2 separate regions of the Homo sapiens genome follow, and region 1 is linked to region 2. The links come from fine-mapping of genetic effects on gene expression. A gene starts in region 2. The other region holds a variant in brackets. All regions are shown on one strand. Distances are between the middles of the regions. Region 1 holds the start of BNIPL (BCL2 interacting protein like). Region 2 holds the start of PRUNE1 (prune exopolyphosphatase 1).

Region 1 (2,799 bases), 28 kb before region 2:
CTGGTCTCAAACTCCTGACCTCAGGTGATCCACCCGCCTCGGCCACCCAAAGTGCTGGGATTACAGCCATGAGCCGCCGCGCCATCCCCTCCGTCCATTCGTGACCACCCCTCCCTTCTCCCAGCCACCCTCACACGTCCTCACCTAGGGAATTCTTCATCCTGCCATTCCTCCTTCAGCTCCAACTCCCCATGTCTCAGGGCTGCTCCTAGTTCTGGTGCTTCTGCAATCTCCCTGACCCTAAGACAGCCCCCAAGAAGAAAAGATCAAGGGAACTGAATAGTAGGTAAGAATAATTGAAATGAAGAACAGTAATTGAGATACAGAGCAGAGGATAGGCCTTCAAAAGGACTCAGATCTCTTGCCTCCTATACAGATGCTTCTCTTACCTTCACCACTTGCTAGAAGCAGATTACCTGCTGTTAAGTTTGGGAGCAGACGAAAGATGGAATGTAAAGTTAATCATATTTACCTCTGTAGCAGTTGCTCCACCTACAAAGTTGGGGTGAGAGATGTCCCACATTACAAGTGGCTGGAACCCAGCTAGACCCACCCAGCTATCATTGAGCAAAGTCGGGAAGACGGTACCTAGTTAGGCCTGCCTTTCCTCCACCGAGCTGGGGAGTGGCTAAGGGAAAACATGGCATAAGTGGAGGGGTGGAGGAAGAAGGTAAGGAGAAAGATTTGCCAGAACGAGAACCTGGACCTAAACTCGGTTCTGGTTCAGCTTTCCTGATGGCCATTCTGGAGGGTGAGGGTTAGAAAATAAAAGAACACAGGCAGATTTATCAGGTACAACATATTACAGAAACTTCCTTTATTTTTAAACCAGGGAATTATCCTGGAATCCTGTTCCCCAGTTCCATACCATACTGACATTTCCTACCTAAAACCACCCTCATCTCTTCTCTGCAAACTCTCTTACAGTCTTGTCTCCTTGAGGAACCCGAGATTTGACCCAGTAAGAGCTGGGTGGTGGGGAAGTCTCTCCGGACTGTTTATTCACTGTTACCAATCAAGTGAGCCAAGATCTTACTTACCCAACATCTGTCTTTTTTCCTGCCTCTTGTATAGTTCCCATCTTCACAAGTCTTCCTGCCTCCTTCTTTAAACACCTAGGAGTTGTTGGGGAGCTGGTTGTCCCAGCCCCCAACACTTCCTTACCTCTTTTCTGTCTCAGCTGTTGTAGCTCTTGCCTCCAAGGAGGGAGGTGTGGAAGGGAGGTAACCTCATCTTCAAAACAGGTTTTGCCACTCCTCTCCCCAGGAGCAGGTTTGCCCAAAAGAAAAACCCTGCCTCCTGTGAGGGGGCGGGTTTTGGGGAGGAGAGTGCATTTTCTAGTGGGGGCCAGTCTCGGTTGAGTCTAGGAAGGCAATTTGTTCTCCTTTCCAGACTCCATATATCCCTCTCAAAGTTGCTCTTTACACAAA[T/C]AAGCAAAAAAACCAGTAGAAACCGTTGTGTTTCTGGCCGGGCGTGGTGGCTCACACCTGTAATCCCAACACTTTGGGAGGCCAAGGCAGGCGGATCACCTGAGGTCGGGAGTTTGAGACCAGCCTGACCAATGTGGAGAAACCCCATCTCTACTAAAAATCCAAAAAAAAAAAAAAAAAAAAAAAAAAAAAAAAATTATCTGGGCGTGGTGACACATGCCTATAATCCCAGCTACTTGGGAGGCTGAGGCAGGAGAATCGCTTGAACCTGGGAGGCAGAGGTTGTAGTGGGCTGAGATTGTGCCATTGCACTCCAGCCAGGGCAAAAAGAGCAAAACTCCATCTCAAAAAAAAAAAAAAAAAGAAAAAGAAACCATTGTGTGTGTTTCTAGGACTGTTATCTTGGATCTACTTTTCAAGCATAAGGAAAACTGGGGAAACGGAAGTATGTTATAAGGAGGTTTCTGGGAGAATAAACAAGTTGAACGGGAGGCTGAGGATGAGGGGAGACAGAAGCCTGTTGCTCCTTATTCCCAAAAAGAGTCAACAGAAAGAAGACATTAAGTATAGTAGGAAGAAGGGGGATCAATTTTGAGGAGACTGAAACAACTATCACAGAGAAAGGCCTGAATACACTTGTAAAAAAAGACAGTAAGACCCCCAAACAGGAAAAAATTATTTAATAGTATAACAAAATGCAAAATAAAGTACCCAAGTTACAAAACATAAATTCCTTTGGTTCATGATCACACCACTATTTTTACCTTCCACATAGCTACAGACATCACACCCTCAAAGTGAAGTCAAACTGTCCCCCTCATACTGAAGATGTCATGCCAAAACCATCACATACCCCACTGTTCAGTGAAACTGTTGGCAACTTACATGGAACAGAGCTGTGGGGTAGGAAAAAGGGGAAAGGGTTGCGTTAAAAAAAATGGGGAGACTCTACACATGCAGAACAAGTTAGTGGGAGGGAGTGCTCTGCTGGGTCAACACGCCATGAACCACACCCCTATTCGTGCTACATGAGGCTGAGTCCTTGCTACAACCACACAGAAATACAGACAATCAAGTGAACCTGAGCACCCCCAGGGATAACAGAAGAAAAATACAGAGAAGCAGAGGAGAGAAAGAATGGCAGCAAGAGGCAGATCACAGAATACCAGGGAACACCTAGTCCAAACCCTGTTTTACAGATGGGGAAAGTGAGACCTGGAGTAGTGAAGTGTCTTGCCAAAATACATAGTTTATGGGAGCATTAGAACTCCATGCTTCCTTTTAATGTGAGCAAGGAAAAAAAGAGATTGACAAGAAATTGATAGGCCTGCTAAGGCAGGAGACAGACCCAGGCCTCTCATTCCAGTTC
Region 2 (2,799 bases):
GGCAGTATAACTCAAAGTAGAGGGGCCGGGTGACCTCCTGGAGCCTGTCTCTGGTTAGCTTTTTGCTGCTAACTGGGGATAACAGCCTAATGCCTCATGACGGCTCAGCATGGCTGGGTGAGTCCAACTGAGTCAGAGAGCACCAAAAATAAGCCACAAAGCATTGAGTAGTCATATTTATGGTTTTGATTCCAAACACACTTTGTGCTTATCCCTTCCAAGTGGAGAATTTTTATGTCATTTGTGTGCGTTAAGGCCAAAGGAGAAACCTGGAGGCAAAGGAATGCTGGTTGTGGGTCAACAAATATGCCTGATGGATTTTGTATGTTTGGCTTAAAAACACTGACTTAAAGTAAAATACTGTGACTACTTCTAACCTAGAAATGAGTTCAGCCCGCCAGACAGAAACTGCCATTCGGAGGAAATAAGGCCGTGAGCACCGGTTCCCTCCACACCCCCGAGGTTCACCTGGAGGCCAGTGGGCCAAGCGAAGCCTTGGGAGCGGAGAACTCAAAGAGGGGCGGGGAGAAAAGAATAAACACACCTCGCGGGGCTAGGCTGGCGGCGGCACAGTCCTGGTTTTTTTGATGGAACTGACCAAGATGACAGCAAGCAGAGGCTCAAATGCAGGATTCAGACCCAAGACTTCTCCCCGCTCTCAGGCGGACCCCAAAGGCGGGGAGCCAAAAACCGGGAGACTGAACAAGCAGCATTCTCACGCTCCTAAACTGGCTTCTCGCTCCTCGCTCCTCATGCCCCAAAACTGATCAGGCCCCAACCCCCCTCCCCACAACTCAGTGTTCCCTCCACACGGACCGTCGAGGCTCCCCCAGATCCCACGTCTTCGTCCTTCCTGGACCCCGTGCTCCATTCCTTACAGTCACAGACAGGGATTCGTTACCTGCAGAGCAGCTCGACAACCCTGCAGGTAGTCCTCCATGATGAAGCCCAAAGTACGCCGTCGCCCCTGGTCGAGTAGAGGTGCCCCTGGTCGAGGAGAGGTTTCCCCGACGAATGCAGCCCGCCCGGGACTCAGGGACTAGAGGCCAGAGTCAGGAGGCGGGACTCGAACCCGCCACACGGCGAATCGGCCTCCGACCCCGGGAGGAACTGCGTAAGCGGGCGCTCCGGAGTCCGGCGTCGCCCCGCCCCCAGCGGCGGAGGCGGGGCTCTACGCCCAGAGGCTCCTGGGACGTCTTTCCGGCGAGGCCAAGGGGGCGTGGCGTGGGGCGACGTGGGAAACGTAGTCCCGCAACTCCGCAATGTCCCTAGCAACCGAGGGAAGGATTGTTTTCTGAGGGATCAGTCGTTCGGTAAACAAATGTGTATGTGTCACAGTAACCCATTATTGTGGCATCTGAACTTTCCCTCTCAGATCAGGCCAAGTATAACATCTTTACATATATCACACCGAGCATCTGGTGACATTTTAAATGACACTTGGCAAAACAGATCATCTTCTTTCTACAAATTCTGCCCTTTACCAAACTGACTCAGTCGCCACCAATTTTGTGGTTGTTCATGTTAGGAGAACATTAGAATAATCTTTGACCCCTCTTGTTAACACCTACAGTCTCCTGCCAACTCCTGCTGCTTCTCCCTTTGCAACTCTGTAGCCTGTTTTTTTCTACAGCCTCGGCAAATATCTTCTTCCTTTCTTGGACGGTTGTAACCTTGGCTTTTTGCTCTCTGCCACCCTAATTGTTCCAATTGCTCTTTCAGCCTTTAGAGTTGCTTGAAATTTCATCCTGTGGCGGCCCTGTACATAGAGTTTAGGGAACCCTTCAGAATGTGGAGTTAGGTTCCAACCTCCCTTAACTGCCACTTTCCAGCCGCAGAGTAGTGCAGGTACTGCAAATAAATGGACACTCATCATCAAAAATTCCCTCATTTATTTATCTATCCCTTTATTTCCTACCGTCAGCCTCACACCAGCTTTTCCTGCTTCCCCAGCTGTAAATCGAGAGGAGGTGACTGATGAGAGGCCTGCAGTGGAACCAAGATCCAGAGCACAGGCGTGTTGGATCTCCTGCCTGCTCTGCCAGTTCTTTTCTTCTTCTTCTTCTTTTTGAGACGGAGTCTTGCTCCGTCTTCAGGCTGGAGTGCAGTGGCAGGATCTTGGCTCACTGCAACCTCCACCTCCCGGGTTCAAGCGATTCTCCTGCCTCAGCCTCCCGAGTAGCTGGGACTACAGGCATGTGCCACCATGCCCTGCTAATTTTTGTATTTTTAGTAGAGATGGGGTTTCACTATGTTGGCCAGGTTGGTCTTGATCTCTTGACCTTGTGATCCGCCCGCCTTGGCTTCCCAAAGTGCTGGGATTACAGGCGTCAGCCATCGCGCCCAGAGCCTGGGGCTTCTACCACACCCTCTGCACTCTACCAGGTGCACAACCCAACCAGTTTCATTTCTAGACTTAAAAATGATACAGCAAGGACTTGGAAAGGAGCTCTCTGGAGGGCTCCAGAGGGAAAAGAGCTGGGTTTGTTTGTTTGTTTTTAACATTAATTGAGTAATACATGCAAATATCGTGCTCTTTGCTCCTGCTTCTGTGGATCCAGAGCAAAGGACTGCCATACCCAGAGAGAGAGCCCAGATCCAACAAGCTGCTTCTGTCCAGCCCTTCTCCTCCCTACTTAGCAAGGGCACTTGCTCTTCCCTATTCTCACCAGAGAGGCACAAGCGCTCCGTCCCTTCTAGAGGCAGGCAGAGGGAAGAGAAAGGGTCTGTTGTTTTTCTCTCCTGTTTCTCGCTCCCTCTCTGCTGATCACAAAGCTGCTGACCGGGTCAGAAAGTCCT

What was found. PIP is the estimated chance that this variant, and not a neighbour inherited with it, causes the effect.
Region 1: its variant is fine-mapped to the expression of PRUNE1 in whole blood (INTERVAL, PIP 0.98).

The regions. Positions count from the first base shown.
Region 1 is chr1:151,035,008-151,037,806 of GRCh38, reverse strand. It overlaps PRUNE1 (prune exopolyphosphatase 1), which reads right to left. Exons shown (of 8, transcript NM_021222.3): 8 at 2,094-2,799. It overlaps BNIPL (BCL2 interacting protein like), which reads right to left and starts at 1,221. Exons shown (of 10, transcript NM_138278.4): 1 at 1,041-1,221; 2 at 145-240. The coding sequence starts at 1,081. The variant T/C (reference allele first, on the strand shown) is at 1,431.
Region 2 is chr1:151,006,774-151,009,572 of GRCh38, reverse strand. PRUNE1 (prune exopolyphosphatase 1) reads right to left here and starts at 1,124. Exons shown (of 8, transcript NM_021222.3): 1 at 902-1,124. The coding sequence starts at 940. MINDY1 (MINDY lysine 48 deubiquitinase 1) reads left to right here and starts at 2,671. Exons shown (of 10, transcript NM_001376665.1): 1 at 2,671-2,799. RefSeq lists enhancers at 485-534, 190-730, 731-1,273, 2,766-2,799.